Homo sapiens: one gene and its partner. The protein of the gene in region 2 interacts with the protein of the main gene of each other region in a biochemical or structural test. Each region holds a gene or a part of one and is shown on either strand. Other genes may lie near its edges.

Region 1 (3,670 bases), on a different chromosome or scaffold from region 2:
CGGGCAGTGGTGGGGCGTCCTGGGTGCAGGGGAGGGGGCAAGGGCGGGGGTCAGATGAGAGCCCAGCACAGGGTGTGTGAGATTGTGCCTTGGAGGACATGGGGGGTGTGCTGTGGGGAGGGGATGGCAGCTCAGCCGAGGGGCAGAGAGGCTCTGGCCAAGGCAGAGCGTGTGTGACGTAGGCATCTGGGGAGGGCGGTGGGTGGAGCTGGGAGGTGCAGGTGGAGAAGGGGCCTGACACCCAGCTGGACAGGGGAGGGGTGGCCGAGCCGTGGGAGCTGAGGGAGGGCTGGGCAGGTCTGGCAGAGGCTGCGGGGAAGCCCCTCACCCCAGCTGGGGTCCCAGGGGCAGAGCCTGGCAGAGAAGCCCAGTTGGAATTTGAGTGTGTGTGCGGGAGGCCGGGTGGGGTGGGTTTCTGGGGGGCAGGGGGGCTTTTGTGTGAACAGCCACAGATTTGGAGGCAATGGTCCTCCCTAGCCATCTGGGCAGTCAAGGTTGCCAGCCCCTCATGCTCTTCTGTCCTCACCCAGGTGGGGTCCCGGTCAGTGGGCCCTCAGCCTCCGATCCCTGGACACCGGCCCCGGCCTTCTCAGATCCCTGGGGAGGGTCACCTGCCAAGCCCAGCACCAATGGCACAACAGGTACTGGAATGGGGGTGGGAATGGAGCCCCGGGTGGGAGTGAGTGGGAGAAGTTAGTGTTGAGTGTCCTAAGGGAGGGGTGGACGCCTGGACTGGAGGTGGGGGCTGAGGCGGGGCCCCAGGGAGGGGCTGAGCAGAACATCCTGACCCCACAGCAGCCGGGGGATTCGACACGGAGCCCGACGAGTTCTCTGACTTTGACCGACTCCGCACGGCACTGCCGACCTCCGGGAGCAGCGCAGGTGAGCCCCTGCCCTCCCCTGCCCAGTGGCGAGAGGGAGCCTCCCCTAGCTCTTCGGGAGCCCCGTCCCTTGCTGTCTTTGTCCCACTCCAGGCAGGGCCGGCTGGACTTAGGGATGAAAAGTTCAGTTGGGTAGAGTGGGCCAGAACCATCCACCTGTCTTTAAAAGAAGTGTGCATCTTTATTTTAGAGAAATTGCAGACTTAGAGAAAAACTGAGAATTGTTCTCAAGGTTTCCCACCCGAATGTTGACCTCTGACCCGTCTCTGCCTCCACGTTGCTTGAGTGCCTTGCAAACTCTCCAGGTGTCTCAAAGAACACGGACTGTCTTGTCCTGTGCAGTGAGCTGCGTGGACAGGGGTTTGGAAGGCAGCCGAGGCTCCCCTTCCGGGTCGCCACTCACCTGCTGGTGGCTCCTGGGCTGGCCAGGGTGCGTCCTCATGGGTGCTGCCTTTAGCTGCCCTGGCTCCTTGGGGTTTTCAGCTGGCGTAAGCTGGCGCCCATCGCCGGTGACGGGCCCATCTGCTGAGTCCTGAGTGGCTCTTCGTCAGGAGTGCCCGAGGTCATAGTGGGCCACTGGTGCTTCGCCGCGGCCCTCAGCTGATACCTGTCTGTCCCATGATGAGTCAGGTCAGCCTTGATCTCTTATTTTTATTTTAAGTGAGCTGTTAGTGAAGAGCAGGTTGTGGTACAGAAACCTGTTTCCACTGATGAAAGGCTGGCAGCTTGCAGGGAGTGAGCTGCACCCACGCTTCCCTCCTCTCATTATCTAGGTTAACGTAGAGCAACCTTCCAGCATGCAGTTTTCCTTCTTTTAGGCCCTTTTTTGTCCCATACAAATGTGTGCATTTTTTCAACATTAGGTAGAATTCTTAAATCTATTTAAAAGGAAAATCAGGCCAGGCGCAATGGCTCACGCCTGTAATCCCAGCACTTTGGAAGCTCGAGGTGGGTGGATCACCTGAGGTCGGGAGTTCAAGACCAGCCTGACCACCATGGCCAAAACTCCGTCTCTACTAAAAACACAAAATTATTACCCAGGCATGGTGGCGCACGCCTGTAATCCCAGCTACTTGGGAGGCTGAGGCAGGAGAATCGCTTGAACCCAGGAGGTGGAGGTTGCAGTGAGCTGAGGTTGCGCCATTGCGCTCCAACTGGGGAAACGAGCGACACTCCGTCTCAGAAAAAAAAAAAAAAAAAAAAAAAACAGAAAATCAGACCTCTAGCCAACAGATGTCTTCACGCTGGCCCGGAACACGTGTCTGTGCTGTCTGTCCACTTGGAAGCTCCCTCTGGGGCTGTGTACTCAAGGAGCGTCTGAGGGCAGGCTCCTCTGAGCCTGGAGGCACCTGTGAACACGCCCCCGCTGCCTTCCCCCGCGGGCCTATAGACCCTGGACGGCCCCACCCTGAAGCAGTTGCTGCCCTCTGGTTGTCAGAGGGTGACACCTGCTTCTGTCATCCCTCTTGTGTTTGCTCACTGGAATCAGACCCACCTTATGGGAATCTGGGCTGACGTGAGGTTTTGGCCTGGGCAAGCGATGCTTCCGCTCTGCACCTCAGTTCCTCCTTCCCGAGGCCTCTGGGCACCGGGCTCTTTGAAGCGCCCCCTATGATGGCCTATACTGCTCCCGGGTTGGAGCCTCACTGCTGTCTGCCCTGTCTGAGCCCCTCTCCCGGATCCTTCCAGGAGAGCTGGAGCTGCTGGCAGGAGAGGTGCCGGCCCGAAGCCCTGGGGCGTTTGACATGAGTGGGGTCAGGGGATCTCTGGCTGAGGCTGTGGGCAGCCCCCCACCTGCAGCCACACCAACTCCCACGCCCCCCACCCGGAAGACGCCGGAGTCATTCCTGGGGCCCAATGCAGCCCTCGTCGACCTGGACTCGCTGGTGAGCCGGCCGGGCCCCACGCCGCCTGGAGCCAAGGCCTCCAACCCCTTCCTGCCAGGCGGTGAGTGTGGGCCCATCACCTGCTCAAGTCCTTCCTGTGGGTTCCACCAGAGGAGGTGCCTCACGGGGCAGGGACACTTCGCCCTTTGCCTGCACATGCTGGATGGACACAGGTGGGCTGCGCCACTGACTCCACTCCGTGTCTCTGGTTTACTCTTCCTGCAGGAGGCCCAGCCACTGGCCCTTCCGTCACCAACCCCTTCCAGCCCGCGCCTCCCGCGACGCTCACCCTGAACCAGCTCCGTCTCAGTCCTGTGCCTCCCGTCCCTGGAGCGCCACCCACGTACATCTCTCCCCTTGGCGGGGGCCCTGGCCTGCCCCCCATGATGCCCCCGGGCCCCCCGGCCCCCAACACTAATCCCTTCCTCCTATAATCCAGGGCGGAAGGGGGCCTGGCTCCATCCGGCTGCCCCATTCCGGCTCCCTGGGAGATCAGTGTTGTGAGTGCATGTGAAATGGGGGATCCCCACCCCCAGTGCCCTTCCCCTTCCTGGGGCCCACTCACACTACACCCTCTTCCTTTCCCACCCCACCTCCCCGGAGAGAAACTGGACATGGGGCCTGGGGAGGGGAGCTGGCCAGAGGAGGACCCCTTTCCCGTGGCATTAGAAGGGGGAGGGGTGGCTGGGGCCCCCACCCATTCCCCCTCCCTCCAAACTCCCAACCCCCAGTCAGTGTTTGAGCCTCCTCGTTCCCCTCACGCACCCGCTCACGCACCCTCGGTGAATCCTTGGTGATGATTTTGGCAACTTTGGGAATAAATGGCAATTCCCACGGGCTTGGCACTCCCAGATTCCCATCTGTGATTTCGTGTGTCCCCCAGAGCCCCTTCATCCAGGGACC
Region 2 (4,100 bases):
AGTTCAAGACCGGCCTGGGCACCGTGGTGAAATGCCATCACTACAAAAAATAAAATAAAGAAAAAGAAACTGTTTCCTAGGACTGCGCACTCCCGAAGCTGGCCTCTCCCGAGCCGAGGAGTGGCAGTGGTCAGAGAGGCCCACATGGACTCAGACCCAAGGCTGGGACTGGAGTGAATCATCTGGAGGGCTTGCGTGTCTGCAAGGGCAACGACGCTGGAAGGAGGTGGGAAGTCTTTTGCATGGCTGCATGTCGGGCCTTCTGGGACCCCTAAACACTCTTGTGTGGACGGGAGGATGTCTGTGGGAATCCCAGAGCTGGCACTGAGGAGGAGTCTTCCGAGTGGGCGGAGGGGGATGCCTGCCAGGCCCAAGCCCTCCTGTGGGCAGCCCCTGCAGCACCCCCATTGCCCTGCTCTGTGAGTGGCTGCTGGTGGGGGGGCACAGTGGTCTGCTTGTCTCGGTCTTCTGCACTGCCACTGCCAATGGGAGCTTGGATTAGGCATGCCAGCCTCCTGACGCCCAGAGCCCATGCTCTGCCCACGTGTGTTAGTGGACGGTCCTCGTGACTGCTGGGACTGTCCTGGAGAGCAGCCCAGGACCCCTCACATGGCACAAGATGCTCTTGTGTCCAGAATGGCCTTTATTTGTTGTCAGGGACAGGGGAGGGAAGCTTCTTGGTGGAAGGGAGAGGCTGAAGAATGAACAGCCCCGGGACCACTTTCTCTGCCAGGAGGTGGCACTGGGAGAGGATAGGGACTCCGGAGGGGTGTACCGTCCTCCAGGAAGCCCTCTGCTGGGTCGGCTCCGTGCCTCTGTCTTGGGAAGTGATGGACTTGGTTGCCTTATGCTGACTGGGGTCTGTCACAGATCTTGGTTTTCCCCAGGAGTTCTGGAGGCCCAGAGCCTGGGTGCGGCACCCGGTTCATTGGGGAGGGGCATGGGTCCTGTGCCCTCCTCCTGGCCGGGCTCCACCAGGGCTAAGCTCTCATCTGGGGCTGCGGAAGTGAGCCAGGGTGGGGACAAAGCCCTGGCTGGTGGGTCTGGGCCAGTTCCAGGTACAGGGTCCAGATCCCCCCACTGCAGCAGGAGGGAGCTTCCTGTTCAAAGCCATCTGGCTCTGGGAAGGACAGTGAGGCAGGGCCATCTGCTTCCCCACTCCCTGGGGTCTCTTCCTGGCCGGGACCTGGAGCTGTGCAGCCTGGCCCAGCAGGTCCTCCCTTGCGATGTGTCCACAGGGGTGGGCCTAGGCCTCCAGCTTGCAGTGGTGCAGAGGGCTGGGGAGCAGAGGGGGCCCTGGCAACAGTGGCCAAAAGTCCTGGCGCCGCCGAGGGACTAGATTCCGCAGGGGCTGCCGCCCCCGGCCGCTGTCACTGGGGTGGGGTGGGTGGTTGTTTCTCTGCAGGCCCAGGTGATGTGGAGGGGGCACCTGGGCTGCCACACAGACCCTGGGCTGGGTCGGGCACGGGGCCTGCCTCGCCCCCAGCTCAGGGACCGCAAGAGATGTGGCCCTGGCGGCTCAGGGCGGCAGGAGGGGCGGGCCAGCCCCACCGTCTCAGGATACCGTGCTAGGGGAGGGTTTCCTCGCCAAAGGCCGTCCAGCGGCTGTGACCCCTTCGCCTGGAGCCCCAGCTTCCTCCCGGCGCCGCCCTCCCGCCCCGGCCCCCGCGGAACAAACAAGGCCCTGGCCTCGGAGCTGCCCCGCCGCCCAGCGCTCACAGGTCGTTTATTCCAAGTAAGAAAACGGAGACTGCTCGGGGCAAGCTAGCGGGGCCGAGGCCCAGGACGAGGCCGTACGCGTGTGCCTGCGTGGCCGCCTCTTTTGCAGTGACCACCAACAACGACAGAGGCGGCCCGCTGCACACGCGGGTTCCCGCCCGGACCCACGCCCTTCCCGTGGGGGACGCGGGCGGCATCGCCAGCTTGGCGCGGCCCCGGGACGCGAACGCGTGGCTTCAGCGGCTCCGTCCATGGTGTCCGCCTGCAGGGGGCGCCCCCGCGCCTGCCTCGACCGGCTCGCCCCCGTGCCGCGGACGCGCGCGCGCTGCCTCACGCGACACCCGCCCCGGCCGCCGTCCGTCGTCGCTCGCGTGCGTGCGCGTGCGTGCTGGTGCGGGCGCCGTACGTGCGCGCGCGCGGCGGCCCAGAAAGCGGCGCTGGGACCCTGAGGCGGCCGTGGTTAGGCGGCTCCCCGGCGGCTCCTCCGCGGCGGTGACGGCGACCGCACTCCCCGCTTCCCGCTCCCCGCGCTCCTCCGCCCGGGTCCGCCAGCCGAGGCCGCTCCCGAGCGTCGGAAGATGCCGGCCGTGTCCAAGGGGGACGGGATGCGGGGCCTGGCGGTCTTCATCTCGGATATCCGCAACTGTGAGTGGCGGGGGCGGCGTGGGGCCGGGGCCGGGGCCGCCGGCGGAGACGGGGTCTGGGAGCGGAGGCCCGGGGCGGGGCCTCGAGGCGGGGGTGCAGGCTGGGATGCGGGCGGGGCCCGGGGCCTGAGGGTGCGGGCGGCGCTCGGGGTCTTGGGGTACCGGGTCTGGGGGTGGGGGCCAGGGTGCGGGGTGGGGGTCCAGGGTCTGGGGGTGCGGGCGGCGCTCAGAGTCTTGGGGTATCGGGTATGGGGGTGCGGGTCAGGATGCAGAGCGGGGCCCTGGGTCTGGGGGTGCGGGGTGGGGTGTCCAGGGTCTAGGGGTGCGGGGTCTAGGGGTTTAGGGCACGGCCCTTCATCCACATCTCCACTCCCGTTTGCTGGTCCGTGCGGGGGGCTGCGGCACCACCAAGGGGGTTCCGGGCCAAGACGCCCCTCCCCAGCATGATGTCACCTTGGTCTTTCTAGTACTGGAGCGTTTAACCCAGCGTTTTCCAAAACGGCGTGGATTTTAGCTTTGGGAGCAGAAATCTGGAAATCAGTGTCTTCCCAGGAAACAGCTTTGTGACCTGGGTTCTGGAGGCTTATTAACCCCTGATTAGATCTCACCTACGACGATTAAAATGACTCATTCCCGGAGGGAATCTGGACACGAGCAGCAGTCGGGGTGTGGGATGGCCTCGCTGCCTGCTGCTCCAATCACAGACCTCGTTCTCAGCCCCGTGCCTGTCCCCTCGGGGTGGGAAAAATCCACACCAAACCGTTAAACAAGCCAGGAAGGCTGGGCCTGTTAGAAGGATGTGCAGGGTGGCTGGGTGGGTGCACCGGTCCACCAATTAATTTGACTTTGGTGTGCAGAACCTCCTCTTGGCTTTCAGAGGCCATCTCCTTATTTAATTTGAGGGAGAAACAAAGCCAGTTTCCTGTCTGCTGCGTTGATTTTTTTCCTTGTTATCCAGCAAATAGTTGACTTCATGATTTTTGTTTTTCTTTTTTTTGAGACAGGGTCTTGCTCTGGCTCTCAGGCTGGAGCGCAGTAGTTCCATCACGGCGCACTCAACCTCCCACCTCAAGTGATCCTACCACCTCAGCCTCCGGAGTCACTGGGACTACAAGCGTGCACCACCACCATGCCTGGCTGATTTTCGTGTTTTTTGTAGAGATGGGGGGGTCTCGCCATGTTGCCTAGGCTGGTCTCGAAATCCTGAGCTCAAGTGATCCACCTGTCTTGGCCTCCCAAAGTCCTGGGGTTACTGGCGTGAGCCACGGCACCCTCATAATTTTTAATGTGTATTTTGAGGGACTGTTGTGATCTTCCCTTTGAATTCTCATCTCCTTAGACGGGATGGAGGATCAGGAGGATAGTGGTTCTCCCACACTCTGTGGAAGGGTAGAGGACCATCTAACCCTTCCTGTACTCTGTTAAAAAAAAAAAAAAAAAGCATAGAGCTGGGTGCGGTGGCTCAAACCTATAGTCCCAGCATTTTGGGAGGCTGAGGCAGGTGGATCTTTTGAGCCCAGAAGTTTGAGACCAGCCTGGGCAATGTGGTAACACCCTGTCTCTACAAAAAAATACGAAAATTAGCTGGGCGTATTGGTGTACACATCTATAGTCCCAGCTACTTGGGAGGCTGAGAGAGGAGGATCACTTGACCCCAGGAGGTTAAGGCTGCAGTGAGCTGAGATCGCGCCATACTCCAGCCTGGGTGACAGAGTGAGACCTTTCTCACAAAAAAAA

What was found.
Region 1: the proteins of AP2A2 (region 2) and EPN1 form a complex in vitro, tested with the Homo sapiens proteins (one study listed by BioGRID).

Annotation. Positions count from the first base shown.
Region 1 is NC_000019.10:55,692,156-55,695,825, forward strand, and holds part of EPN1 (epsin-1), read left to right. Parts: intron 1-530; coding exon 531-641; intron 642-795; coding exon 796-882; intron 883-2,570; coding exon 2,571-2,828; intron 2,829-2,992; coding exon 2,993-3,201; 3' UTR 3,202-3,670. UniProt on the Homo sapiens protein: Binds to membranes enriched in phosphatidylinositol 4,5-bisphosphate (PtdIns(4,5)P2). Modifies membrane curvature and facilitates the formation of clathrin-coated invaginations. Regulates receptor-mediated endocytosis.
Region 2 is NC_000011.10:923,725-927,824, forward strand, and holds the start of AP2A2 (AP-2 complex subunit alpha-2), read left to right. Parts: upstream 1-2,145; 5' UTR 2,146-2,297; coding exon 2,298-2,364; intron 2,365-4,100. UniProt on the Homo sapiens protein: Component of the adaptor protein complex 2 (AP-2). Adaptor protein complexes function in protein transport via transport vesicles in different membrane traffic pathways.